Homo sapiens: one gene and its partner. The protein of the gene in region 2 interacts with the protein of the main gene of each other region in a pairwise test. Each region holds a gene or a part of one and is shown on either strand. Other genes may lie near its edges.

Region 1 (15,525 bases), on a different chromosome or scaffold from region 2:
ACCAGAAGACCCTGAAGGTCCCTTCAATGCTGAGATTCTGTGCCATATGCAGATGTTCAAGCTTGTTGAGGAACAAGGCATTCTCAAATATGGAAGAAAGAGAAAAGGAAGAATTCTTATACTTTCACTAGCAGGCCCTTTCTGAGAAGGGTTAATACTGAGCCACAAGGCCCCCACCAGTGCATGAAAGGAGGTGGAGGAGCCAGAGGAATAAAAATCTCAAACCAAATTTTTCAAAAAATGCTTACAAATCTTTGCAAACTTCATAAGCTTTTCATTCTCCCCCAAAATCCTGTTAAGTAGGGCAGGTATTATCTGCTCTATTTTTATGTAAGAAGATACTGAAACAGAAAGATTAAATGACCTGCCCAAGTTCATAAAATAAATGAATGGTGTAACAGTGATGAAGACCCTGGTGTCCTGATTACTGCCAGCTAGCTCAGTGCTCTTGACACTGAACCACATTGCTTTTCCTCTTTTTCCCTTGGCATAGAGCCTATAGGCCCAGAAGTTATGTGTGCACATAACCAAATAGGGAATGCACAAGCAACTGCAGCATTATCTCAGACAGTTATTAATACATCATCATTATTCCTGGAGCTGAGCATTTGGTTTCCATATTCACTCAGTCCTTGACCTGTCTATTGAGTTTATCTGCAACTGGGAGAATAGGGTCAGTGAGTCTTTTAATGATGTGAACGCCTGTTTGCTAGGAACTCAAGGAAGCTTGTGTGGCCTGGACGCTTAATACTAGCCATCAGAATCATGCCCAAGTTTGTACTTCTGTTGCTTTTCAAAATGAGAGTTCAAGAGTTTTGCTCTGTAAAATTATCCTACAGACCAGTATAAAAAAATAAAAAAGTGTGCTAACACTTGTTTCATCTCCATTTAAAGAAATGTTTGTTACTTGAGCTAATTCCAAAGACAGCAATTTGGGAGCAGGAAAAAGAGGACAAAAATTAGGAATTGTAGGAAACTTGAGAATTCTGTAGAGTGTATATAAACCAAGAAGGAGGATAAAGCCTATCCATTTAGGAGATATTATTTAAATTCATAATTACTGATTTAGATATCTAATGAATCCTTATTATAAGTTTTATCTATATTTAGAAAATAACATGTGATTATTAAGCAGCAGATTTTTTTTTAAAGCTTCGTTCTTCCTCAGTAAGAAATAACACTACACAGATCTAGGCACTGTTTTTCTTCTTAAACCAGTACTCTTGATGCTGCTTAAATAAGATTCTTGCCATAATTAATTATAATATTAGATGAATGTATATTTAAATTTAATAACACCAGCTAAATATTAAAACTGGTGTTTAAGACAGATGAACTGCCAGGTACAGCGGCTCACGCCTGTGAACCCAGCACTTTGGGAACATGAGGTGGGCAGATCGTTTGAACCCAGGAGTTTGAAACCAACCTGGGCAACATGGTGAAACCCCATCTCTACAAAAACTACAAAACTTAGCCGGGCATGGTGGTGCATGCCCGTAGTCCCAGCTACTCAGAAGGCTGAGGTGGGAAGATTACTTGAGCCCAGGAGGTCGAGGCTGCAGTGAGCCATGACTGCACCACTGCACTCCAGCCTGGGTGACAGAATGAGACCTTGTCTCAAATTTAAAAAATAAATAAAGAAAAGAAAAATGACCTAAACTAATTAATAAAATAATTAGCCAAGATAATATACTTTATTGTAAACAGGAAGCCCACAAACACAATTTTTTTCTGCTCTCTAATTATGTGGAATCAATTGCAGAGACAACCTTGAGACAGACTGGTGAGTGCACTAACAACTTTCTTGGAGATGGGAACGTTGGTAGGTATAAAAGGAAGAAGTTTCATCTCCGACTTAGGATTTCAGCATATCTTAGATTGCTCTGTACTTTCCTTTTCCTGAATGTCATCTATTGTGAATATCATCTTTCTTTAATTTGCTTTTACTTTGAATGGAGAATTCAATTGAGAGACAATATAAAATGTAAAAAATTATATAAATTACAAATTAGGATAAGTTAAAGTTCTTGGAATAAAATTATTTTGCTTATGTTAAGCATAGGTAGCATTTTGAACTTTTATTTTTGAAAAGCACCCTCTGTAGGTTACTTGAGGTTGCTGTGGGTTCTTTTTTTTTTTCTGACTTGAATATATTTTTATATAGAGCCTTAACGTTATTTTATTATAGATTTTTTTAAAATAATGTTTTCTATTCTGTTTTATAGCACCCTAAAAAGAAAGAATAAAACAACAACAGGAAAAAAAGGAAAATATTTAAATTGTGACAAAAACCCACTGGGTAGGTATTTCAAGGGGGCACACTGTGGATTTGGGATATTTTAATATTTGATCTCTTAAAAATGAATATTTAGAAAAATATATAGCTAGTACATAGGCATTCCAAAATCATTTTAAGGGCTACTAAATTTTGTAAAATTATATTCAAATGTGTGTGCTTCCAGAAACTGTTTTGCATGCACTCCTTCGATTAGTGATTCGTTTTCATCCCTTTGGGTCTATTGTATAAATATCATCCAATTAACCTCATCACCGTTGAGTTCCCACAATAGACCTAGTGGGAAAGTACCTAACAGAATATAGGAAAAGGTAGTATTTGTTCAGTAAGCATTTGATCTTTTTATTTTAAGACACATTCTAGGTGTTCCATGTGTAGACATGTTGTGGAGGTAACAAGTAGGGTACTGTATAAATATTAGCACTTTAAATTTTGCAGTATGTTTTCAAATGTTGCTATTATGGAATTAAAACCTGAATCCAAAAACTAATAAGCTATTCAAGATTTCCTTCCTTCATGACAGCTGTTATATTGATATCAGTCAATTGTCATCAACTTAAATGCCATTGTTCCATGAAGAAAAAAATATAGAAGATCCTTACTTGAGAGGGTGTTCCTATCAATGCAAGTATAATGGGGTAAATGCCTGAAGAAACGTAACCTTGTTCTCTCTTTCAAATTCTGGGGTGCAGTCTAATTCTGGCCCAGACCTCTACCGACAGAATCAAGAATCCAGTTTATGTAGCTTTCTCTTCTCAGTAATTTTTGTATCCATCAGGAGCAGACTTCAAACCCCAAGTCAATTTCATACTATTTGTCTATTGTTTGGAACTGTCCAAACCGGAAGCTAAAGTTGTCACACATTTGAGTGGCATTCCTGTTCTAGGCTTCCTCTCCTAGAATTGGGTCAGAACTGAACCAAATTACAGGACCATCTGCTAGTCCATTTACCCATGGCACTCAGCCATTTTCCTGGCACAACAAAAGACCTCAGAAAAACAAGACCTATTTTTCCCCTTATGCAAAATTAGTGTTATTTCTTCTGCTGTACTACATCAATTAATGAGCATAAATCAGAGAAGTTGAATGAGAAGGCCTTATAATTCAGAGAAATTTGCTATGAAGTTGATTTCAGTTTCAGGTTTAACTGTTTTCCCTCCTACTTTTCCTTTTATTTTCAGGTTCTCTTGGTTACAAACTCCTTCCCTTCTGGTGCTGCAAAAATGAGTGGGAAATCCCTGCTCTTAAAGGTCATTCTCTTGGGTGATGGTGGAGTTGGGAAAAGTTCGCTTATGAACCGTTACGTAACCAACAAATTTGACTCCCAGGCTTTTCACACCATAGGGGTAGAGTTCTTAAATCGAGATCTGGAGGTAGATGGACGCTTTGTAACCCTCCAGATCTGGGACACTGCAGGGCAGGAACGTTTCAAGAGCCTTAGGACACCCTTCTACAGGGGAGCAGACTGCTGCCTCTTGACCTTCAGCGTGGATGATCGGCAGAGCTTCGAGAATCTTGGTAACTGGCAGAAAGAATTTATTTACTATGCGGATGTGAAGGACCCTGAGCATTTCCCCTTTGTAGTTCTGGGTAACAAGGTAGACAAAGAGGATAGGCAAGTGACTACTGAGGAGGCACAAACCTGGTGCATGGAGAATGGGGATTACCCTTATTTAGAAACTAGTGCCAAAGATGATACTAATGTGACAGTGGCCTTTGAAGAAGCTGTCAGGCAGGTGCTGGCTGTAGAGGAACAGCTGGAGCATTGCATGTTGGGTCACACCATTGACTTGAACAGTGGCTCCAAAGCAGGGTCTTCGTGCTGTTAAAGATAGGGAGCCTTTTAAAAATGTGCCCCAAATTGATCAGTCAGTAGTGTAAGAATAACTGTGCCCCTCTAAGAGTGCACACACACGCACACAAGAGGGTAAGAGACAAGGTTCTGATTGTGAAACAGAGCCTTTCAAATTGAAGTGTAGATTGATTTAAAAAAATTAAAAATTAAAAAAAATGAAGCTCTATCAAGCCAAGTGTATTTTGCGTGATTTCTGCTATTTCCCCTTCTTGTGTGTCTCAGGACATATCAGAAAATTTTAGTCCTGAGACAGTTAAATATTTTTTAAATCACAGTTTAAACCTAGAACCCAGCTGCATGAAGGAGTTAAAGAGCTACAACTATTTCTTAAAGTGTTCCATTAATCAACTAACAAATGTCACTATCAGACTCTTGCCAAGCAGTTTCTGACATTTCTGCCAAAGGGGAAAAAAATCAGACTTTGAGCTGTATTACAATAAAAATAATAATGCAAATAAGGATTCCTAGGCTTGAATTAAAGAAGTTGTAATGATTAGGAGTGCAAAAGTATAATGATATACACTGACTTGTTTAAATCCTTATGTATGGTTCGCTCCCATCTGAGCTTTTCAAAAAATCCCATCTCAATAAGAGATACTCTAATGACACTGGCAATTGATTATACTTCTTGTGTTTGAAGTCATAGGATACTAGTGAATGGATTATGCTTAAATATGCCAACCACCTTTGCAAATAAATGGTTGGTCTGCTTTTAATTCCTAAGTCTACTTTTGCTGCATAGAGATGTTGCTTCTCTGACAACCTCTTACCAATTTAGCAATGCTGCTTAGTATATGAATTTGGATGCAGTGCTCTCTGCTCATCATTTAGATGGTCCTTTGATCCAACATGCTGGGCTCATGGAGAAGGCTTCATAAAAGATTGGGGGATAATGAACTTTTCTCACAAGGCTCCTTAACTCAAATATTTATTGCAGAAGAAGGAACTGGTTTCTTATATGTTGCACTGTATGTTCAACTAGCCTAATTAGGACATTGAAAGTGACAGAAGAGCAGATCTTAACCCAGTGTTAGAATGAATTTCCCATAAACAGAGTTGTCCAACAGTGGAATGGACTGCCTTAATAGTGAGCTCCCTGCCTCTGAAAATATTCACTGGATGACCATCTGTTAGAATACCATAAAAAGATTTTCTGTGCTGGCTACATGTTCAATATAAAGTCCTTTCTGGCTCTAAGTTCTATGAATATATAAACTACATCAGTGCCATGCTGTGGTTAGATTTATCTGATGATAACAGCTAAGACTATGGAGAGGGACTTTAAAAATTCTCAAACCATTCTGTGATCAATCTTTAACAGCAACTACATAGCTCTTCCTTTTGCTTTTGCACTGTGGCAGGAAAAATTCTTGAGCTCTGAGTAATCTTTATGTGACTGATAAAAAACATCTTAAAGCTCCCATGTTAAAATATAAAAATGGTTTGACAATTTTTGATTACCATGACTGTCAGTTATATACTATATTATGAATATGCAGTGTGGTTCTTGTTGGTTGATCTGTTTACCCTGCATAGATTTTAATCTGTACTTTAAAACATCTATGATAAAAATAGTGACAGACAGAAATTACCCCAAAAAGAGACCTAGGCCAGGAAGGGGGTGGGAGCTTTCATAGGAATACAGCCTAGAACTCTCCATTGTAGCCACGTATGGAATCAGCCTTACTTACATGTAGGACCTTTGTGCTTTAAGAGCTCTGGGACATATTGGCCAAATAGAAAAGAAGAGGACAGTATTTCAACTCAGTCATACTCAATATTTCCAATTAAGATATAATCCTGACACCATTGTTCAATTAACTTTGACGCCAGAAGTCAAAGCCAGAACTGGGACCCCACAGCTCTTAAGTACTGGTCCCTATCCTGCCTATGCCTATAGCCAGCCACACTGGTTTCCAAGTTCTGTGATCATTTTGCTACAATCATGTTAGGGTGAAAATCTGTACGTCAGAACTGTTAAATGCTAATTATTTTTAAGTGCATGAGACCTGGGGCCTTCTCTTTCTACTTGCACTCTGCTTATACTAGTTTCTATTTGTAGATCTCAGGCCTTCATCATAAAGACCTCTATCAACTCACAAAAGTATTTGTCTCTATTAGAGTGGCATGTGGTCATTTGAGTAAAAAAAAAAAAATTACATGGGTATCGGATTCATAGGCATCCTGTCCATCTAAGACAAGTGTTAATTTTATTGGCCCATCAGCTGGAGCCCCTTTCCTCTTAGCCATACCATTGTTTTCTACCAAATTACCACTCAATATCTTAATGAAAGCACTCAACATTAAGTGACATAAACAGTGGCATTTGGGTAAGCAACACTCAGTGGGGTGCTGACATACAGTTTGGGTAAGATTAAAAAACACCAAAGGCTGAAATCTGTGAGTACCAAGAACTGTGCATATAGGTTTAGAAATTGACTGTGTACCCTAGAATGTGCAGTGTAATATTTTCAATAGGTGTTTTTTTAAAGAACACTAGATTTTTGGAATAATATATTTCTAATTAGGACTATACTGTTTTTCAATGGTCTGTTAAAACATCATACAGAATATTTATTTAGTTTATTGTCATGTATTGGCTAACTTTCAGGGGCCTCAGATTCCATATGTCTTCAGTGGATTGATGAATATCAGGTTAATTTGTGCCTGCCCCAGCCATCTCTACTTTATTCTGAGGTATTCCACAATCCTCTTGTTGCAGGTGCTGCTAAAAAAAACTCAAAATTGTGTATCAAATATTTTCTTTCAACTGTAAAAAATCATCTGTGTTAAAGTGAATAAAAAGTGCATTTTGAATAACCAGCACACAATGTTTGTGTTTATTCCCTCCCTTTCTCTTTTTGAGAAATTGGTGGGTGTGATGGACAGTACTTATTAATCAAGTCACTCTTTCAGGCTGCACTGGATGTGGCCTCTGGATCATGTTTCATGTGGTACTCCAAGCAGCCACTATCTAGTGATCAGATATTTCTATACTGATTGTGAAGCAAACTCTAAAGATTGGGGCAGGGAGGTCCTTTTTATTTTATACCACTTTCTTTCTATTTATTTAGTTATTAGAGACAGGGTCCCTCCATTGCTCAGGCTGGAGTGCAGTGGCGCAATCATGGCTCATAGCAGCCTCAAACTCATGGGTTTAACCACTTTCTAATGCATGACGTGTATTGGGACTGGAAATTGAATCTTAACTTTCCACTTTATTTCTTTATTATAATTTAAAACCATTACTTAATGGATACAATGTACACTATTCTGGTGATGGGTACACTAAAAGCCCAGATTTCAATCTGCAATATACCCATATAACAAAACTGCACTTGTGCCCCCTAAATTTATACAAATAAAAGAAAAAATATTATAATAAACAACGTTGCATAAAAAATAAGATAAATGTTAAACCATCAAAAAATATAAACAGAGTAGACATATTCCCTTTATTTTCCTGACTGGTGAATTGTCCAGACCTTAGGAAAACATGAAAATATAGGTGAAACAAATAAGAAAAGCAAAGAATAATTTTGTTAAATATTCTGTTCTCTTGCCTCTCACATATTGGATTTTAAAGATACATTAGCACCCAATGGCTTGAATATACATAATGGCGGTTTTAAAATTATGGACACAAATCTTTCCACAGCATATATAGTTTCATTACATTGATTCCATCTGCCACAGATTTCACTCTCTTCTCTCTGTCTACTTTTGCCTGTTGCAACTTTGGGCAGTTGAAATTGGGGGTGGGGAATTTGTTGGGAAACAGATTTTTTTTTTTTTTTTTTGCCACATGTACCATTTCCATCTCTGAGGATTATAATTTAACACATTATCAGACCATGCTTCAAATGCAGCACCCCAAATCATTTTGACTAGTCTATAATGATGCAACTTTTAGAATATAGAAAGTCATAGATTTATAAGCCACTTAATAAGGATTTGCTCATTTGTAACTGATTATTTTTTTTTTTGAGACAGGGTCTCGCTCTTTTGCCCAGGCTAGAGTGTAGTGGCCTGATCTTGGCTCACTGCAACCTCCACCTCCTGAACTTAAGCAGTCCTTCCACCTCAGCCTCCTGAGTAGCTGGGATTACAGGCATGCACCAGCATGCCCAGCTAACTTTGTGTGTGTGTGTGTGTGTGTGTGTGTGTGTATGTGTGTGTGTGTGTGTGTGTGTGTGTGTGTTTGAGACAGGGTCTTGCTCTGTTGCCCAGGCTGGAGTGCAGTGGCCTGATCTTGGCTAACTGCAACCTCGGCCTCCCGGACTCAAGCGATTCTCATGCCTCAGCCTCCCTAATAGCTGGGATTACAGGCGCCCGCCACCACACCTGGCTAATTTTTGTATTTGTTGTAGAGACAGGGCTTCACCATGTTGGCCAGGCTGGTCTTGAACTCCTGGCCTCAAGTGATCCACCCACCTGGCCTCCCAAAGTTCTGGGATTACAGGTGTGAGCCAATGCACCGGGGCCCATAACTGATATTTTAAAAACAGAATGCCAACTTCCTGTCTTTAATGTTTTTCTGCCTCATTCATAACCCAGTGGGAAATCTCCTCATGATGTCTTAAGAAACAGTACGGTCTCATTTTTTGGAAATGGTTTGGCGATAGTCCTTCCAGAAACAGGAAGGTGTGGAATACATAATTTGTCTTCCATCTTGTAACTGTAGTTTTAAAACACACTGGAAAATCGAGGTATCAATTTGAGTAATTTCAAGCTGGGAGGTGGGATGGACATCTCTACTTTCATTTGAATTACCCAAAGTAGATCTTGCAGCAATTTTTTTTCCTCAGTGATCTAGATAATCATTTCACTTTTTTTCTCTCTTTGCTGTGGAAATGTAAAATTTACTACAGTGCAGTGTTTTTCTTACACTTGATTTTAGGGCAGATAAACTGTAATATACTGTCTTAGCCCATTTGGGCTGCCCTAACAAAATACCATAAGCTTGGTAGGCTATAAACTACAGAATTTCATTTCTCAGCTCTGGAGGCTAGGAAGTCCAAAATCAAGGCATCCGCACATTCAGGGTCTGGTGAGGTCTTGATTTCTGGTTCACAGATGGCACCTTCCAGCTCTGTGGAAGGGGGAAGGGGTTTCTCCTGGGCCTCTTTTATAAGGACACTAATCCCATTTATGAGGGCTTCACCCTTGTGACCTAATCACCTTCCAAAGGCCCCATCTCCTTATAATGCCATAACCTTGGGGGGTTAGGATTTCAACCTATGAATTTTGGAGGGGGACAAAAAGATTCAGAGCATAGCATACACCTTTTGATAAAACGTTAATGTGCATGATTTGGGATATTCACTAATGTTTTCTTTTTCCAAACTGGTCATTTTAATTTCCTCAAGTTTCCATCACCAAAAGAGCTCTCATTCTTTACTACTTTCTCTTTAAGAGAAGGAAGGGATAATGACAAAAGCTAGGCATGTTTATGGAATAAAGGAAAAATTATTAAATGCCTTCTTACTGATATGCTTGCCAAAACTGGTGAGCAAGGATCTCTTATTCTGCTAGTGATGGTAGTGGTAATAATGTGTGAAAGGGTTTTTTTTTAAGGGGGCAAGAAGTTACTTAATATTTTCCCAGTGAAAATAAGCATCTTCACAGCTCAAGATGTGGCGTCGTCACCTGTAGTCATATAGAAACTGCTGCAGTGATCTTTGTGTCTTCATAAATCTCTTTGCCTTCTCCAAGGAAACACAGAGAATGATGATTCAGTTATATATAAATGTCTTTTTAAACAGTGGGTTTTGTGTGTGCAAGCATGTGTATTTTTAAGTAATCTGTCAGTTCCTTTCGTGCTGTATGAACTATGGGTAAATGTATAATGGTCTCACTATAACACTCCTGAATTTTAATCAGACCTGCCAAGCTGTGCCACATCTAGTTAACTGATTGATAAAAAGAATTGGGAAATGCTGCCTTAATGAAAGAAATAGCTCTTAATTCAACATTAGCTATATTGATTAGAGTAAAAATACAAATCACACTTTCCTGTGGTGCATTCATGAGGAAGCAAGAAACAGGCTCATATCATCTCTTTTCTCTTACGTTGTTCCTGGCTGCCTTAGAAACGACATATCCAAGGGTGTGTCCTGTAATATATTGCTCAACATAGAGTCTGTTAATAGATGAACAAGTGCCAGTAGCCTCTGAGTTCTCTCTTTTTCCATTTGTTCCCTGCTAGAAAACTTAGAGTGACCGATAAATGCTTTAAAATGTTCTTTTTTTCTGATTACAAAAGCCATACACATCCACCGTAGAAAAATGAAGTAATGAAAGAAATAGAAAAGCAAGATTTAAAAAATTAAAGTCATCTGTAATGTAATCCTATTAACCTGAGATAAGCAGATTTTAACATTTTAGTGTAGATTTTAATATATTTATGTATTTTTAAAATTGATTTGATACTGCACACACTGTAATCTTTTTTACTTAATATATATCTATAGTACTTAACTTTTCTCTAAGACATATATTCTTCTAAGATTATATTTGCTGTTTGCATAATATTGTATTGAAGGGTTTACCACAATTACCCATATTGCTAAACTTTTAATAAAACACTTATTGCTAGACATTTAGGTTGTTTTACAGCTGCCTTCTTTTCATAAAATAAAGCATCAGTGAAGTTCCTTAATATCAATCTTAACTCTCACCTCTGTTTATTTCCTACTAGTAAAATTTCTAGGTCAAAGATTATGAATTTTTTATTAATTTTAATATATACTGGCAAATTGGCCTCTAGAAACTTATCCCAAATGACATCAACACCAGTAGAATAAGAGGAAGACTATCTTTCCAACACCCAAACGTATGGACTATTATCTTCCTTTTTAACCCCATATGTGCAGTCTGATGGGTGAAAAAATGATCTCATGCTGTCATTTACATTTATTTAATTTTTTGAGAGTAATTGTTTATACATTCATTGGCCATTTTTATTTTTCCTTGAGTGAATGGACCCTTATGGGGGTTGGGGAACATTCATTTTTGTTTCTTATTGATTCCAAGGAAATCTTTTTTTATATTGTGGGTATTAACCTTTGATCTTATCCACATTGCTAGTTTTCTGCAATCCCCTCCCATAGATCTTGCCTTTTAATTTTGTTTATGGTATTTTAAAAATATACTGCCATATTATAGAAAAGGTTATGTTCTGATAAATTAGAAAACTGGTGGGTTGGGGAAAGAGAGGTGCTTATTTGATTTGTCCTTTGTTTCTGATTATACTCGAGACTACTTTTGTTTAGAAAGGTTATGAATCTAAGCTTTGGTCACCATGATAAAAGAATTGCTAGAAATAAAAAATATTCATTCATCCAGATGCTTTAATTGCATGATGTCAAATGACTGGTTTGAATTGAGTCTACTGCTGTAATAATCAGATTATTCTGAAGCCTTGTGTTAAATATAAATGCAGAGATAGAAACAGTTCCACTTTCAACCACAAGGGGGCAATAAAGACCGGTTAGTGTTCCGCCATAGACTAAACTTATATATATGTGTGCATATATATAGTATATATAGAGAGAGTATATATATATATTATATGTATACTTTAATTTCTGGGTTACATGTGCAGAACGTGCACATTTGTAACATAGGTATACACGTGCCATGGTGGTTTGCTGCACCCTTCATCCCATCACCTACATTAGGTAGTTCTCCTAATGTTATCCCTCCCCTAGCCCCCAACCCTTGACAGGCCACAGTGTGTGATGTTCCCCTCCCTGTGTCCACGTGTTCTTATTGTTCGACTCCCACTTATGAGTAAGAACATGCGGCGTTTGGTTTTCTGATCTTGTGATAGTTTGCTGAGAATGATAGTTTCCAGCTTCATCCATGTCCCACAAGAGGACACAAACTCATCCTTTTTCATGGCTGCATAGTATTCCATGGTGTATATGTGCCACATCTTCTTAATCCAGTCTATCATTGATGGACATTTGGGTTGGTTCCAAGTCTTTTCTACTGTGAATAGTGCCACAATAATCATACGTGTACATGTGTCTTTATAACAGAATGATTTATAATCCTTTGGGTACATGTCCTGTAATAGAATTGCTGGGTCAAAAGGTATTTCTAGTTCTAGATCCTTGAGGAATTGCCACACCATCTTCCACAATGGTTGAACTAATTTATACTCCCACCAACAGTGTAAAAGCGTTTCTATTTTTCCACAACCTTTCCAGCATCTGTTGTTTCCTAACTTTGTAATGATTGCCATTCTAACTGGCTTGAGAAGGTATCTCATTGTGGTTTTGATTTGCATTTCTCTAATGACCAGTGATGATGAGCATTTTTATATGTATGTTGGCTGAATAAATGTCTTCTTTTGAGAAGTGTCTGTTCATATCCTTCACCCACTTTTTGATGGGGTTGTTTGATTTTTTCTTGTAAATTTGTTTAAATTCTGTATAGATTCTGGATATTAGCCCTTTGTCAGATGGATAGATTGCAAAAATTTTCTCCCATTCTGTAGGTTGCCTGTTCACTCTGATAATAGTTTATTTTTCTGTGCAGAAGCTCTTTAGTTTAATTAGATCCCATTTGTCAATTTTGGCTTTTGTTGCCATTGCTTTTGGTGTTTTAGACTTGAAGTCTTTGCCCATGCCTATGTCCTGAATGGTATTGCTCAGGTTTTTTTCTAGGATGTTTATGGTCCTAGGTCTTACGTTTAAGACTTTAATCCATCTTGAATTAATTTTTGTATAAGGTGTAAGGAAGGGGTCTAGTTTCAGCTTTCCACATATGGCTAGCCAGTTTTCCCAGCACCATTTATTAAATAGGGAATCCTTTCCCCATTTCTTATTTTTGTCAGGTTTGCCAAAGATCAGATGGTGGTAGATGTGTGGTGTTATTTCTGAGACCTCTGTTCTGTTCCATTGGTCTATATATCTGTTTTGGTACCGGTACCATGCTGTTTTGGTTACTGTAGTCTTGTAGTAAAGTTTGAAGTCAGGTAGCTTGATGCCTGCAGCTTTGTTCGTCTTGCCCAGGATTGTCTTGGCTATGCGAGCTCTTTTTTGGTTCCATATGAAGTATAAAGTAGTTTTTTCCAACTCTGTGAAGAAAGTCATTGATAGCTTGATGGGGATAGCATCGAATCTATAAATTACTTTGGGCGGTAAGACCATTTTCATGATATTGATTCTTCATATCCATGTGCGTGGAATGTTTTTCCATTTGTTTGTGTCCTCTCTTATTTCCTTGAGCAGTGGTTTGTAGTTCTTGAAGGGGTCCTTCACATCCTGTGTAAGTTGTATTCCTAGGCACTTTATTCTCTTTGTAGCAATGGTGAATGGGAGTTCACTCATAGTTTGGCTCTCTGTTTGTCTGTTATTGGTGTATAGGAATGCTTGTGATTTTTGCACATTGATTTTGTATCCTTAGACTTTGCTGAAGTTGCTCATCAGCTTGAGAAGATTTTGGGCTGAGACAATGGTGTTTTCTAAATATACAATCATGGCATCTGCAAACAGAGACAATTTGACTTCCTCTCTTCCTATTTGAATACCCTGTATTGCTTTTTCTTGCCTGATTGCCCTGGCCAGAACTTCTAATACTATGTTGAATAGGAGTGGTGAGAGAGGGCATCCTTGTCTTGTGCCAGTTTTCCAAGGGAATGCTTCCTGTTTTTGCCCATTCAGTATGATATTGGCTGTGGGTTTGTCATAAATAGCTCTTATTATTTTGGGATACGTTCCATCGATATTGAGAGTTTTTAGCATGAAATGCTGTTGAATTTTGTCAAAGGACTTTTCTGCATCTATGGATATAATCATGTGGTTTTTATCATTGGTTCTGTTTATGTGATGGATTACCTTTATTGATATGTGTATGTTGAACCAGCCTTGCATCCCAGGGATGAAGCCAACTTGATTGCAGAGGATAAGGTTTTTGATGTGCTGCTGGACTCGGTTTGCCAGTATTTTGTTGAGGATTTTCACATCGATGTTCATCAGGGATACTGGCCTAAAATTCTCTTTTTTTGTTGTGTCTGTCTCTGCCAGGCTTTGGTATCAGGATGATGCTGGTCTCATAAAATGAGTTAGGGAGGATTCCCTCTTTTTCTATTGTTTGTAATAGTTTCAGAAGGAATGGTGCCATCTCCCCTTTGTACCTCTGGTAGAATTCGGCTGTGAATCCATCTAGTCCTGGACTTTTTTTTGGTTGGTAGGCTATTAATTATTGTCTCAATTTCAGAACCTGTTATTGGTCTATTCAGAGATTCAACTTCTTTGTGGTTTGTCTTGGGAGGGTGTATGTGTCCAGGAATTTATCCATTTCTTCTAGATTTTCTAGTTAATTTGCATAGAGGTGTTATAGTATTCTCTGATGGTAGTTTGTATTTCTGTGGGATCAGGGGTGATATCCCATTTATCATTTTTTATTGCGTGTATTTGATTCTTCTCTCTTTTCTTCTTTATTAATCTTGCTAGCAGTCTACCTATTTTGTTGGTCTTTTCAAAAAAACACCTCCTGGATTCATTGATTTTTTTAAGGGTTTTTTGTGTCTCTATCTCCTTCAGTTCTGATCTGATCTTAGTTACTTCTTGTCTTCTGCTAGCTTTTGAATTTGTTTGCTCTTCCTTTTCTAGTTCTTTAAATTGTGATGTTAGGGTGTCGATTTTAGATCTCTCCTGCTTTCTCTTGTGGACATTTAGTGCTATAAATTTCCCTCTAAACCCTGCTTTAAATGTGTCCAGGAGATTCTGGTATGTTGTGCCTTTGTTCTCATTGGTTTCAAAGAACATCTTTATCTCTGCTTTCATTTCGTTATTTACCCAGTAGTCATTCAGGAGCAGGTTGTTCAGTTTCCATGTAGTTGTGCGGTTTTGAGTGAGATTCTTAATCCTGAGTTCTAATTTGATTGCACTGTGGTCTGAGAGACAGTTTGTTGTAATTTCTGTTCTTTTACATTTGCTAAGGAGTCTTTTACTTCCAATTATGTGGTCAATTTTAGAATAAGTGTGATGTGGTGCTGAGAAGAATGTATATTCTGTTGATTTGGGGTGGAGAGTTCTGTAGATGTCTATTAGGTCTGCTTGGTCCAGAGCTGAGTTCAAGTCCTGAATATCCTTGTTAATTTTCTGTCTCATTGATCTGTCTAATATTGACAATGAGGTGTTAAAGTCTCCCATTATTATTGTGTGGGAGTCTAAATATCTTTGTAGGTCACTTAGAACTTGCTTTATGAATCAGGGTGCTCCTGTATTGGGTGCATATATATTTAGGATAGTTAGCTCTTCTTGTTGAATTGATCCCTTTACCATTATGTAATGGCCTTATTTGTCTCTTTTGATCTTTGTTGGTTTAAAGTCTGTTTTCTCAGAGACCAGGATTGCCA
Region 2 (15,525 bases):
TCTGCCTATGGAGTAGCCATTATTTTATTCCTTTACTTTCTTAATAAACTGGCTTTCACTTTATGGACTTGCCCTGAATTCTTCGCTGGAGGTCCAAGAACTCTCTTTTGGAGTCAGGATTGGGACCCCTTTCTGGTAACAAATTGCTTTAGCTTCTTAAGGTCAATGACCAAGTCTTATGTACCTTGGGATCTCCTATGCCTACCCAGCACAGGCTTGGCTCACCTATTGAGTAACTAAGGAAAAAATGAATACTTTCTCCCTTTCTGACACTTCCAAGTTGTCAGCAACTTTGGTGTCTATTTTTGTTTCATTTTTGTATTAATATTTTTATATTGTCATAAAATATAACAATAGTTACCATGTTAATCATGTTCTAGTGTTCAGTACACGCTCTAGTGTTTAGTTAACAATGTTCTAGCGTTCAGTTCTATAGTTCAGTATAGTACGAACTATATATGCACCTCATGCAACAGATCTCTGTAACTTTTTCTTCCTGCAAACCTGAAACACTATACCTGTTGAACAACGCCCCCTTTTCCCCTCTCCCCAGCCCCTGGTAACCATGATTCTACTTTCTGTTTCTAAGAGTTTGACTACTTTAGATACTTCATATAAATGGAATCACTTTTTGTGATTTGCAACTGGCTGATTCCACTTAGCACAAGGTCCTCAAGGTTCATCCATGTTGTAGTTTATGAAGGAATTTTCTTCTTTTTTAAACGCTAATCATCCATTACATGTGTATACCACATTTTCTTTATCCATTCATCCATTCTAGTGTCTTTGTTTTTGACTTATGGGTTTCCGGAAAAGACTGATGAGAAAATATATTTTCTATTAACCCAAGAGAAAAAGTGATCTTGCATGCTGGAATTTTTAAGGATGGTTTAGGTTCTAGAGACTCAAAGAGAAATCGTAGAAAATGCAAAGGGAAATTAGATTAAAAAAAAAAACAGTGACCACATAAAGAATATCTCCCATTATATCCTCTCTGAGCACGAGAAACTATTAAACTACTTTCAACCGAGCAATAAGGGCCCATAATAAAAAGCTGTTGCCCTAGTTTTTTTACTGCCCTACTCAATACCCCCTCTTTCATACCCTCAAAATAGCTCAGCTGAGAAAAGAAACAGTCCAATTTTACAGAAGGGAAAAATAAACAGATAAAAGGATAAGCAAGAACTCTTTTCAACACAGAGTAAGGTACTGGTTAGAATTTTAATACTGTATGGAGGAGTCTAACCCCAGAGTAATCCCTGGCCCATTTTGGTGTTAGTAAGTGGATCCCAGTGTTCGTTTGTATCGAGGTAGTTTGAAGCACGTTAGGGATATTCATAGCCTTTACTTCAGTGCATTATTATGAAAGAATCTAAAGTATCTTTGCATTTACGTGATTATGTTTTCAGTTGGTCTGCGGAGCTATTATTAAATATGTGGCCATAACGTGTACAGAAAAATCTCCAAGTAAACTGGCATTTAACTTACCAACACGTTAAACCCCCATACATAACTTCCTTTAAAAACGATCACACTAAAAATCCCAGCATTTAAAATCCTGAAGTTTTCGGTAAAATACGCTAAATATAGCTTGAAATAGTAAATAATCCCCCCAAGGCGACATTAGCAAATTAATTGGTGTGTGAACAAAGAACTCTTTCTGCAGCAGCATGAATGTTGCCTTTATTTTTTCTCACAAGTATGATTTTAGAAAACAGCTGTAGCGCATGTTGACAAATGAGAAAGCGGCAGACGTGGTAAAGCACTTTCGGTCAAGGCCAAGAGGGGGGGAAATCGGGTTGCTGGGGCGGCACTCGGGCTGGAATCCCTAGCTTCCCTAACCTCCTTTTTCCAGTCCGGAGTGAGCGGGGGCCCCATCGCCCCACCCCCCTTTCCTGGCTCTGGTTACGGCCTTGCGAGTTGAACAAACTTGCTGCAGGCGGATTGGCGGCTGGGAGCTCTCGGGCTGGGGCGTTGTATTTATTAATTTATATTCCGCGGCGCCCCGCGCGGGCGGCTCCTTTGTGTCCAGCCGCCGCCACCGGAGCTCCCGGGGCCTCCGCGGGGAGCGCGTCCCCCGCATCCGCCCGACCCCCGGGGCTGGCACGTGCTGCGCCCGGTCCGCTGAGGGGGCGGAGGCCCCGATCTCCCCGACCCCCCTTCTCTGCTTAGAGGAGGAGGAGCAGCGGCAGCGGCAGCAGGAGGCGACAGCTGCCAGCCGAGGAGGCGCGGCGGAGAGGGGACTGCGGTCAGCTGCGTCCACTTGGGGCTGTGCGGCGGTCCCGCGCCCGGCGATGTTCCCGGGCACTCCCTGAGTAGCGGCAGCTTATCCCCCGCCCGCTAGCCCGCCCTGGTCCCCGGCTCGCTCGCTGGCTGGCGCGGCCCCGGCCCCGCTCTGCGTCGGCCCCGCCGCGGTGGAGGCGCGCGAGGGGGACGCGGCCGGGGATGAGCGGATTGCGGGTGAACTCGCCGCCCGGGGGCCCCGCGAAGCCGTGAGCCGCTGCTTTTCTCCGAGTCGCCGCCCTGCCCTTGGATTTGAGATCATGTACGTACGCGCCGCCGTCCTGCCATTGTCTCTCTCCAGCGCGTGCCGTGCGCCCCAGGGACAGGGGCTGGTGCCCATCCTCGCCGCGCGCTGTCCCCCGCACTTCCTGTTCCGAGGAGAGACCCGCGCGCTGACCGTGCTTCCCTTCTCCCCTCGCCCCCTCTGTCCGTGCAGGTCCATCCACATCGTGGCGCTGGGGAACGAGGGGGACACATTCCACCAGGACAACCGGCCGTCGGGGCTTATCCGCACTTACCTGGGGAGAAGCCCTCTGGTCTCCGGGGACGAGAGCAGCTTGTTGCTGAACGCGGCCAGCACGGTCGCGCGTCCGGTGTTCACCGAGTATCAGGCCAGTGCGTTTGGGAATGTCAAGCTGGTGGTCCACGACTGTCCCGTCTGGGTAAGGAAGAGCAGCTGCTCCGCGCTGAGGCTGAAGAAGCTTTTCTTTCCTTTTTTTTCCCCCTCCCCCTTCTGCCCACTTCCGTGAGTGTGGAGTGTCCGCGTTACATGGGTCAAATTTTTAAACATTTTTGAGAAAATCTTTGGTCCTTTGTTTCACTGGGCAGGGAACAGCCCTGTCAGAGAACACTCTTAGGAAGATAGAAGGCCCCAGTGGGAATGTGGAGCACTTACTGGTACACTTCACGACTGTGGGTTGACCCTTGGTAGGCAGCAGACAGTTGAATGTGCCAACTCCAAGGGACGGGGTCACTAAGTTTCATCAGCAAAAAGCAGTGTTTTTTTATGTCTACCCTATGGGTGATAGTGTAATATTGGTGTTCTAAAAATACATCCCTCTCAAAGCTCAACACAGGCAAAAATACTTTTCACTGGGACAGTTCAGAAATAGTTCCTCTGGAAAGCGGAGGAAAAGACAGGGACTGGGAGTTAATTTTAAATGACTCATTTATAGCACTATTAATTGATCTCTGAAAACTTAATTTTAATAATGCAAATACTCTTTATGTGTTAGCCATTTGTCTTAGTGACTCATAAATCAGAAATAACATTACTAATGTTGTTTGGAAAACTTTTAAAAAATTAAAATTTGTAATAATTGAACAAAATAGTAGTGAAGTGGATAAATTATAGTCCGATTCTTGAGTGTTTGATTAAGGGAGAAAGGAACTTACTTTCTGACACATATAAATATTTTCAGCATACAATAACATTATGTTTGAATGTTTTCCTTTAGTCTTATTTGAAAATCTTTGATTCTTTACTGATATTGGAGTTACGTATGTTTCAGCTAAATGTTACATTTAATAACAGAAGAAAGTTTAGTGCCTGAAAAGATACAAATTATCGTTGTGTAAGATTTCACATTTAAACAGCAATATTAAAAAAACTGAATTAGGACTATAGGAAAGTATCACGCCATTCTAAAAAATGTGTAGAATATACTTGGAAAAATTTCTTATGCAAAGTTCCACATAACAGAACGAAAAGATCACTCGCTCGTGTAAGTTTTCAGTTAAAGAAGAAAGTTATGTTAATTTGGTAAAATAAAAAACAGGCCTTTTCAATTAAGAGATACTATTAAACCCCTAGTTATGATAGTGATGATGCTGTTCATAAGAAGTATTGATGGAGAACTTACTGGTCAGAGTCTATGCAGGCAAATGAAACACTTCTTTTACTTGGGATCTTTCGTTGTGAAAGATCTTACAGCCTAAAAACATGACGGTTCAACATGCAGTTGAATAAATGTTTAGCGAATCGAGTAAATGTAGGGAAAATAAAACTAGCTACATTAGGATGTTAGGATTGCTTTCCCGTATTTAATTTGAGCTGTTAACACTTTCCTGTTTATACTGTTAATTTTGCAAACAGTAATGCTTGTGATCCCATACACTTTGTCTAGTAAAATGAAATCTTCCAAATGGAGAAAATAAACCTCTATAGTACGGATTTTTGCCATATGCTGGTTGTTATGGTTTATCTTGCTAATAACTTTTTGTTTGGTTAGACTCTGGCCCTATTTAAGGCACCAAGTTTGTAACCAGGTACAATTTTCTAGGTTATAATGATCTTCAGATATGAGATTCCATTTCTAGAGTTGCTCTTTATAAGGTGCTTTTCTTCACTTGGTGGTAAGTAAAGCCCATCAGAGATTCTAAAGCTGATTGCATTAATCAACTGTTATTTGACGTATGTACGGAACCAGAATATTAAATATAGCAGAGCAGATAGAGCATAGCCTTTGATATCAAAAGGATCTGATTTCAGATTCCCACATTGCCATTTCAGGTCTGTGTGTCCTTGTTAAATCACTTACCTTCTCTCAGCCTTATTTTCCCTATCTATAAAATAATATGCCTCCTAAAGCTGTGCTGAGAAGTGAATGAGAAACTAGCACGTGTCAAGTTCTAAGTATAGAGGCTGGCATTTAGTAGATGCTCTATAAGTGGTAGCTAATATAAAAATAAAGTGTTACAACTTTAGTTATGTATCACTTATATTAATACTAAGCAAAAGTAAGATTTTCACAGGTCATTCAAGATTTATACAACTACAGTACCAGTACACTGGGGCAGCGATGTTCATACTTCATACATGCAGCCCCACAATCAAGTAAAATAAAATAGTTTCACTGTAGAAATTCAGATTTTTTTTTTTAAAAGATGAGTTCAATTCTCCAAATGTGGCTCCAAGCCTTGTGTTGCATAACCCCGAGAGGAAACCCTGGAACTGATTTACAAGGGGTGGGAGAATTTGATTTTCTTCATAATTCTAGAAATCTTTGGAGTATTTTCTCTTTGGCATAGTTTGAGAAGAGATGTGTTGTTGTTGCCTTGAAGTTGAAATGAGGTAGCTGTGTTTCCCTTCCCTAGTTCTCTTCTATAGATCCTTAGCCTTACCCTGGATCCTTGCCTTATATACTTGGCACTTTTAAAACAAATGTGCTGCAGATTCATTAGATGTAGCACATTATTTAGTGTGTCTTTCTCTCTCTTTCCCATCCGTTTTTTTGGTGTGGTACATTATTATTTCATTTCACGTTTCTATATCTTTTACTGTTTATTAAAAATATTCCACAAAAAGCAGTGAGGTAGTTTAATAGATTTACAGTTTTCTTTGCAGGGTTTGAAGCTCTGATTTGGATTACAAATTAAGTATTTATAGTCTTCACATCCTCAATCCCACAGAGTTAAGGATGCCCAGACCCATTTTTTCATAACATTTTCCCTTAAAGGTCCTCCCCTTCCCCGGATACCTCTCCAGTAACTCTGGAATTTTGAACTATTTGGAATTCAAAAAGCAGCTACTTTTGATTTATTCTCTCAGAGTTAAATGGCTGCTTAATATTGGCCCCACTTTTGTTTAGTTTTTTATCTCATTTGTCTTCCTTGTTATACTTACGCACTCTGTTATACTTGGATACTTTGAACTTGAACGCTGTAACAGATGCAGTTGGAACTGAATGAGCTGTGTGGTTTGGGATTTGGCAGTTTGAGAGTTCTGCTGGGAAGCTTTCCCATTTTTCTGCACTGTGTCCCACTTCCCTTCTGCCCCCTTGCACCCTCTACCAAGTTCAACCCTTTGCCTTTGTTGTTTATAGTCCATATTTTGCCTTTTTTTTTTTTTTTTGGTTCTTTTACCTCCCTTCAAAAATACTGTACACATCCCAGTTTTGATAGGGTATTCATGACAAAAAATTCTGCAGTTCTTGTTACTCTGAGTGTACTTGTGGGAAATGAGTGGCTGGGAGGGTATGGGGAACTGGGGGAGGCACTGATGAGAAGAAGCTCTCTCTTCAGAAGGGCATTGCTGTGTGATACTCCTCCAGAATGTGCCATCGTAGGATAAAAGCTCTGTCACATAGACCTTGGTTGGCTGATTCAAACACTGTTAACCCTGTTTTAGACTCATATTTCAAAGTTTGAACTTTCTTAGCTCAACAGCTTTTGGACCTGTTAGTCAGACCTAGCTATTTTCTTAATCTAGCTTTATTACATCCTAGAAATGTGTACCAAAGGCCACATAAAAAGACAAATGATTAATAGTTAACTAGAATGTGAGAAGAAAACTACTTGTACATTATTTGGTAGTGGAGTTAAGATACCTAAAGATATTTTCCTTACATCACTATTCATACAGAAACTGAAAAATTATATGTAAAATATCAACCCAGGCCAGGCACGGTGGCTCATGCCTGTAATCCTCACACTTTGGGAGACCGAAGTGGGCAGACTGCCTGAGCTCAGAAGCTGGAGACCAACCTGAGCATTGTGGTTGAAACCCCATCTCTGCTAAAGTACAAAAAAATTAGCCGGAATGGTGGTACACACCTGTAGTCCCAGCTACTCGGGAGGCTGAGGCACAGGAATTGCTTGAACTTGGGAGGTGGAGGCTGCAGTGAGCCGAGATCGCACCACTGGACTCCATGCTGGTCGACAGAAAAAAAATCAAAACATTATATTTTTAAGGAATAGTGTTTGTAATAAATTACTTACTGGCCCCAGTTCTAAATAAATATAAATGTTATTAGCTGTAGCACAAAAGTAAATATTTCAGAACTAGAAGAGTTTATCCTGAATTTTTAATTTATGTAGGCAAAATACGTGAATTGAAAATATATTCCTTACCATGTTAACACCTTGTAATACACAGTATCTCTTTTTTTAGTAAAGGAATTTCTCCCTCACCCCACATTCATACTCTTTATATACAGTACTGTCCAAAGGATGGATAAAGTTGAAAAGTATACATGAATTTTGAAAATATGAATAAAGTATATGGAACTTCACAGAATTTAAAATGTATTGCAGTTCAGAACACTGAAAATCCTGCAGTGTCTAACTGGGTCAGAGGAAAACCTTTGAAGCTTCGTTACTCATACTGTTGCTCTTCCATCTAATGCCATAATGTTACACTTTTGAATTTATGAGGTGATAAAAATATAGTGTAATTTTAAAACAAAGGGCTTATTTTTAAGTGCAAATAGTGAAAGAGGTTGCTTATTTTATCTGACTCTCAAGAATTCTCAGGTTCTCCTGTTTAACCATTACATAATTGTCCAGGCTACATGAGTAAGTAAACATTTTTAAAAAGAGAGTTGGCAGACTGCAACACTTTTAATTTCAAGTAGTTACTTATTTTAAAATAATTTTTTATGAATTCCAAAAATTAATGTCATAAATTATTTCAGGATTGATTGGACGATAAGTAGACTAAAGATTGCTATTTGCATTTTGGTTTAGGACATATTTGACAGTGATTGGTACACTTCTCGAAATCTAATTGGGGGCGCTGACATCATTGTGATCAAATACAACGTTAATGACAAGTTTTCATTCCATGAAGTAAAGGATAATTATATTCCAGTGATAAAAAGAGCATTAAATTCAGTTCCAGTAATTATTGCTGCTGTTGGTACCAGACAAAATGGTAAGTATTTAATATTCTTTTTTGTAGTGAGCATGCAAATATTATATATACTTTAAATAGTGCTAAGTTTATTAATGGATAATAGGGTTTGTTTTTGAAAACCAAAATGACTTTGGTTCAATGCCAGCTGCTATCGCTTCATCATTTGATACGATAAAAAAACAACAAAGGAGAGGATCATGAACTTCTGCTGTGATTCCACTGGGTGCAAATCTGTCTTCTAAATGGCTCTTCTACAGTAGTGATGGAAGTCAGCAATTGTATTATTTTGACATATGAGAGGTATTAGGCTGATGCTGAGCCCTAGAAAACTCTTTTTGATGATCTGAAGGTCTACCTGATTGGGAAGGATAGATTGTTCACATGAAGATGTGGGCTTGGGAGCAGGATTTTTAGGTAGATAACAATGAGTGAGCTGGAAACACTGACAGTGCTGCCTAAAAGAAAGGATTGCTTATTCCATGGCTGATAGATTCATTGGGTTCAGGCTGCTTCAGCCATTGCTGCTGTGCATATTATTGTCAGATATCTTAGGGCCAACTCAGGATTCAGTTTGATTTGGTGGTATTTTACAGATCTTCTTAGTGGTATTTCCTAGTAAAGCTATTTTTAAAATTTTATTTTTACACATTATTCTAAAAACTTTTAAATTGAGGTATTGCGAAGTAAAGGACATAAGGTTTACTGATCTTAGAGTGCAGCTAAATGCATTTTTACCTATGTATACAGCCACGCAACCCACATACATCAAGGTATAGAACATTTGCAGCACTTGAGAAGGCTCCCTCATGCTCTTCCCAGTTAATAACGCTCCTCCTCAGAGGTAACTGCTATTCTGACTTCTAACAACACAGATTAGTTTTACCTATTTCTGAACTTCATACAAATGAAATTATATGGTATGTAGTAGTGCCTTAGGTTAGGCTAATTTCAGTTAGCATAATACTTTTGAGATTTGTCCATGTTGTGTTTATCTGTAGTTTGTTCTTTTTATTACTATATATTAGTCCATTGTATGAATATGCCATAATTTATTTATCCATTCTTCTTTTGAGGATGCTTAGGTCGTTACCCAGGAGCGGGATTGTTGGGTCAGAGGGCAGGTATATATATAGCATTAGTAGATACAAGTAAGGCAGGCATGACCTACCCGTGACCCCATATCCCCTCTACTTCCCTATCTTTCTTTTTATTTCTGGTCATGATTCATAAAAGAGTTATCTGCACTTCCTGAGTCCATTTCCTATTCATTCTTCAGTCCGCTACAGTCTGACTTTGACTTTCACAAGTGCACCAAGTTTGTTCTCCCTCAGGGTCTCCAGTTGCTGTGGTCTGAATTTGTTCCCCAAAGTTCATGTGATGGCACAGTGTTGGGCAGTGAGACTTTAGGAGGTAATTAGGGCAAGAGGACTCTGCCCTCGTAAATGGATTGATGCTATTATCTTTAAAGTGGGTTAATTATCATGGGAGTGGGCTCCTGATAAAAGGATGAGTTTGGCCCCCTTCTGCCCTCTGTCTTGTGAGCTCTCTTGTACTTCTGCCTTCCACCATGGGACGATGCAGCAGGAAGGTCTCACCAGATGCTAGCACCTTGATATTGGACATCTCAGCCTCCAGAACTGTGAGAAATAAATTTCTTTTCTTTATAAATTACCCAGTCTGTGGTGTTCCATTATAGAAGCACAAAACGGACTAAGACACCACTTATGTCCTCGTTAGCCAAATTTAATACACTTTAATAACAATTATCTCTTATCGAAGAGATAAGAGATAATAATACTTATCTCTTGTTGAAATTATTGAAACATACCTCTCCCTCCATTTAATAAAGCTACTGGTTCTTTTAACTATCTGTCTCCTTTGCCTTTCTCCCCTCCTCCCACACACACACAGCAGAATTGTTTCCCAGGGTTCCGTCCTTTGACCTCACCTGTTCTTACTCTTCAGCCAAACCATTAACCTGCTAATCTGTTGTCCTGGCTTCTCCTATATAAACACCGATAACTGTTCAGTCTGTCTCTCTGGCTTTAGTCTTGCTCCTGGCACATATCACCATAGACATCATCTTCCTCTGGCCAAATTTCCTGTCTTGGTGAATGATGCCAGTCCTATCCATTCACCCAAACAAGAATCATCCTAGACCCAGCCCGATTCCGCATATCCAGTTGATTAAGAAGCCCTTTTGCTTTTACATTTTAAACAAATCTCAAACTCATTACTTTCTCTTCATCTCCATTGGATTTCGCATTCTAGTCATTTAGTTATTTGTCATGGTGGCCTTCTTTTTGGTCTCTTTAAGGGATGGTTTCAGATTTTGTAGGGCCTCAAACTTACACAATTTGGGAGGTCCTTCATAAGGAAAAAAACCCACAAAATAACAGATACATATATGTACAAAAGTAAATATTTAGAATGATAAGTGAAAGCACAACAAATTACAACTAAAAAGTTGTCAAATACTACAGACATTTTTAAATGTATGTATATATTTTTGAGACAGGGTCTTGCTCTGTTGCCCAGGCTGGAGTGCAGTGGCATGATCATAGCTCACTGCAACCTGGACCTCCTGGGCTTGAACGATGCCCCCCACCTCAGCCTCCTGAGTAGCAAGGACTACAGGCACGTGCCACCACACCCAGCCAGTTTTTTTATAGAAACGAAATTCTGCCGTGTTGCTCAGGCTGGTCTCCATCTCCTAGACTCAAGCCATCTGCCCCCCTCAGTCTCCCAAAGTGCTGGGGTTACAGGCGTGAGCCACCACACCTGGCAACAGATCTTTTTAACAGCCTGATACTTCTTCAACTTTTCTTATGTTTTTTGGGTGACCATAGTCTTTGGTCATCTCTTCATATGATAACCACTGATAGGTTATGGCTGTGTCCCCACACAAATCTCACGTTGAATTGTCATAATCCCCATGTGTCATGGGAGGGACCTGGTGGGAGGTGGTTGAATCATGGGAGCGGGTTTTTCCTGTGCTATTCTCATGATAGTGAGTAAGTCTCATGAGATCTGATGGTTTTATAAAAGGGCAGTTCTGGTCATGCTCTCTTGCCTGCTGCCATGTAAGATGTAACTTTGCTCCTCCTCCACCTTCCATCATGATCATGAGGCCTCCCCAGCCATGTGGAACTATGAGTCCATTAAACTTCCTTTTCTTTATAAATTACCCAGTCTCAGGTATGTCTTTGTTAGCAGCATGAGAACAGACTAATACAACCACTTTATGATATTTTCTATAGAGATGAGAATGATAATCAGTGGAATCTGATTATCAGTTATCACACACTCAACTATACATGGAAGTGACTATAAACCACAAATAGTTCATTAAGCCTAAGGTTAAATTCCCTTTGGCAACATCCCCCAAATGCCCACAGTTACTCCAGAGCTGCCTGATACAAGATGAAGTGATTTGGAGTGGAAAGAGACAATAGTCTTGACTAAATATCTTAGTTTGCAAATTTTACAAAAGAATATGACCATGTGAAGATATATTGCTCAGGTTCTTCCTGGGGCTTGGAAAGGATCCACAAGAAAAGAGTCTTGAAGCTTGAGCTTCATCAGCTTTATGGTAAATTGGCCTCTGGTGTGCTATTCCTGGTTTGTCTCTTTCTGAAATAAATTCTCTCAGAATAGTTATCCTAGAATACAAGTCAGATCATGGCGCTCAATGCTTTGAATTCTTTGAGAACTTTCTTCTTTGCCTCTTATTTTGCAAAATTTCAAACCTAAGAAAGTTGACAAGAATAAGACATTGAACCCTAGATTTTATAAACACACACACACACACTTTTTTTTGGCTGAACTATTTGAGAGTGAATTGTAAACATTATGAGATTTCTTTATTCCTAATTACTTTAGCATGTATCATCTAAGAACAAGGCCGTTATCTTATTAAGCCTAATACAATCATCAATCAAGAAATCTAACATACTATTACATTTTTACTATTATTTAAGATATAATCTGGCCAGGCGCAGTGGCTCACGCCTGTAATCCCAGCACTTTGGGAGGCCGACGCGGGTGGATCATGAGGTCAGGAGATCGAGACCATCCTGGCTAACACGGTGAAACCCGGTCTCTACTAAAAATATGAAAAATTAGCCAGGCGTGGTGGCAGGTGCCTGTAGTCCCAGCTATTTAGGAAGCTGAAGCAGGAGAATGGCACGAACCCAGGAGGCGGAGGTTACAGTGAACCGAGATCGCACCACTGCACTCCAGCCTGGACGACAGAGCGAGACTCTGACTAAAAAAAAAAAAAGAAAAGAAAAAAAAAAGAGATAGAATCCATATTTTCATTTCCCCGGTTGTTTCCTTATAATGTGCTTTATAGCTGGGGTTTATCATTGTTGTTGTCTTTTAACCAATCCAGGATGCAATTAAATATTACACATTACATTTAGTTGTTATATCTCTCAATTCTCTTTTTTTTTTCTTTCTTTCTGTTTTTTTTTTTTTTTTTTTTTAGAAACAGGATCTTGCTGTGTTGCCTAGGCTGGTCTGAACTCGGGCCTAAGCAATCCTCCTGCCACAGGCTCCCAAGTAGCTAGGATTATAGGCATGCATGACCACATCTGCCTTCTAATCTCTTTTAATCTGGAGCAGTACGCCCAGTGGGTTTGGGGGGAGGGACCGTGTCTGTCATAATATGAACATTTTTAATGAGCCCAGGCCCTTTAGTTTGCATAATTCCTTCATTTATGATAAATGTGCTTGCAAAATAGTGATGTTTCTATCGTTCTTCCTATACTTATTGGTTGATATTCTTCTGTAAATGGAGCTTTCCTTTTTCTCTGCTCCCAAATTTTTCTCTTAGAATTATTATGATTCATGGATTTCTATTTTAAATTCAGTATTTTGTGATCTGTTCTGATTATTCTTTTGGATGCTCACATTGCTCCATATTTGCTTGCAGGGAGTCATTTCAAGCTACCTCTAATCAGTTTTTAGCCCCTTCCTTATTTTCTGGCACAAGATATTCCAGGCTCAGACTTTGCCTATCCCAGTCCTAGAATCAGCCATTTCTTCAGGAACTCTGGTTCCTTCTAGGGGGCAATGATATTTAGAAACCAAGGTCTGGGCTCTAGGATGCTCATGACTTTAGGTGTCTTTACTTCTGCGCCCTTTAATTGGCTAGAGCTAGGGATTATACTTTTTATTTAAATTATGGGCACTGATGCCCTTATTTCAATCTGGTATTCGTATCTCATTTCAATAACTTTTTCTTGTAAAATCTTTACCTGAAATACAAGATCCTTCATGAGGTAGCCTCTGACTGTTTCTATAATCTTGCAGGGCACAATCCCCTGCCTTATGTATCAGTCACACTGAACTACTTGAAAAACTTAATGTCTTTCTTTAGGTCTAGGAAAGTCTTAACTGTGTGACTTCAGATATCACCATCCATCCATTTTCTCTATTCTCTTCTTTTGGGACTTTTGTTAGACTGATGTTGGAACTTCTGGATCTCTTCTCTGATTATTTTATCTTTCTTTTATATTTCTTATTGCTTTATTTCTTTGTGTTGCATTATGGGAGAGTTCCTTGGCCTTTTCTTCTGGTTCACACATTAGTTCTGCTGGGTCTGTTCTGCTATTCTGCCTTATTAAATTTTTTATTTCAAAAGCTTTTCATACCAGATCTCTAATGGCTGTTTTCATAAGTTCTTGTTCCAATCTTAAGGATGCAAACTTTTATTTAAAAAAACTCTCAGACCAGGCGCAGTGGCTCATGCCTGTAATCCCAGCACTTCGGGAGGCCGAGGCGGGCGGATCATGAGGTCAGGAGATCAAGACCATCCTGGCTAACACAGTGAAACCCTGTCTCTACTAAAAGTACAAAAATTAGCCAGGCATGCTGGCGGGCGCCTGTAGTCCCAGCTACTCGGGAGGCTGAGGCAGGAGAATGGCGTGAACCTGGGAGGCGGAGGTTGCTGTGAGCCAAGATTGCGCCACTACACTCCAGCCTGGGGGACAGAGCGAGACTCCATCTCAAAAAATAAAAAAATAAAAAATAAATAAAAAAAACTCTCAGGATAATTAATGATGCTTAATAATTCAGTTTTGATTTTTCTATTAAGTTTGGTTTTAAGATGGCATTATAAGTCGTTCTACTTGATGAGATTTTATTTTATGGTATGGATACTTCTTAAACATTGGGGAATTCTTAATTTGCCTACTTTTGCAGTTGACTTTCCTTGTTGGATTGATGCCTTCCTCTTTCTCTGCCCAGCTGCTGTCTGGGGATGGGGGTGTAAGTAGGAAAACACCCAGGATCAACAGGCTTGGCTGCTTCCACTGGGGTTCTCCCACTCATCCCCAGTCATTTGCCTTTGGGCCGCCTCCTCCTTGTTGCTCCCTGCATTGTTGAGCAGGGAGCACTCTAGGTGTGGCTGCAGTGTGAGCCTGTACTCAGAGCTTCAGGAGGCCTCTTCGGTCCTGTACTGCCTGCCTTCATTCTCTCAAGCACTCCTAGTTTCTGGGCTGATGAGGTTTCCCCTCTAGTTTTTGAGTGTTGCTGTGTATTCAGTCCTTCCTGCCTCCCTCCCTGTCTTTCTCCCTCCCTCTCTTTCTCCTTCCCCCTTCCTTCTTTCCTCCCCTCTTCCCTCCTTCCCTCCCTTCTTCTCCTCCCCCCCATTTTTTTTTTTTTTTGAGACAGCATGTCACTCTGTTGCCCAGGCTGGAGTGCAGTGGCACAGTCTCAGCTCATGGCAACCTCCACCTCAGGTTCAAGTGATTCTCCTGCCTCAGCCTCCTAAGTAGCTGCAATTATAGGTATGAACCACCATGCCTGGGTAATTTTTGTATTTTTAGTAGAGGTGGAGTTTCATCATAGTGGCCAGGCTGGTCTCGAACTCCTGACCTCAAGTTATCCACCTGCCTCAGCCTCCCAAAGTGCTGGGATTACAGGCATGAGACAATGCACCTGGCCCCTCTCCCCCTTCCTTCTTTCCTTCCTTCCTCCCTCCCTCTCTCCTTCCCTCTTCTCTCCTTCCCTCTCTTCTTTCTCTCCTCCCCCCTTCCCCCTTTATTTCATCATCTCTGTGATTTGGCAGGGAGGGGAGATCACAGTGTGGGCTTAGCTTTCCATCTTGAAACTGGAAATGAATGTTTTCCTTTCTTCTCACATCCAGTCCCCTGTACATGCTGTATTCTTAACTGTAGTGCCCCTCTACACAGCCCCTATCATATCAGCATAGCAAATTCACACTTATCTTTTAAATCATTACACTTTCTGTGAAGCCTTCCGTAATCCCCCCAGACAGTTAACTTTCTCTCCTCTGTTGTGTGGTGGCTTTGGACATCTTTATTTCAGTGCTTATTATGTTATATTATAACTGTTTGCAGTCATGTCTATCTTCTCTCAGTTGACTATGAGTTTTTATATCATTGCATTTTTATATCCCTGGCACTTGATGTGTGGTAGGTACTCACTAAACGTTTATTCAATGAGTGAATGGTTTTATGGATGATCTGAGTAAGTGAAAAAATCAATTTCACTAACAAGATGAAATTAATTTGCCATACAAGATGTAATTACAAAGTAATTACAAAGCTAAATCTGGCTATTCAACTCGAGGACCTATA

The links.
Region 1: the proteins of RHOBTB3 (region 2) and RAB9B interact in a two-hybrid assay, tested with the Homo sapiens proteins (one study listed by IntAct).

The regions. Positions count from the first base shown.
Region 1 is NC_000023.11:103,813,779-103,829,303, reverse strand, and holds the end of RAB9B (ras-related protein Rab-9B), read left to right. Parts: intron 1-2,225; 5' UTR 2,226-2,299; intron 2,300-3,477; 5' UTR 3,478-3,519; coding exon 3,520-4,125; 3' UTR 4,126-6,977; downstream 6,978-15,525. UniProt on the Homo sapiens protein: The small GTPases Rab are key regulators of intracellular membrane trafficking, from the formation of transport vesicles to their fusion with membranes.
Region 2 is NC_000005.10:95,729,140-95,744,664, forward strand, and holds the start of RHOBTB3 (rho-related BTB domain-containing protein 3), read left to right. Parts: upstream 1-2,196; 5' UTR 2,197-2,543; coding exon 2,544-2,545; intron 2,546-2,553; exon of another isoform or gene 2,554-2,719; coding exon 2,720-2,945; exon of another isoform or gene 2,946-2,963; intron 2,964-7,749; coding exon 7,750-7,936; intron 7,937-15,525. UniProt on the Homo sapiens protein: Rab9-regulated ATPase required for endosome to Golgi transport. Involved in transport vesicle docking at the Golgi complex, possibly by participating in release M6PRBP1/TIP47 from vesicles to permit their efficient docking and fusion at the Golgi.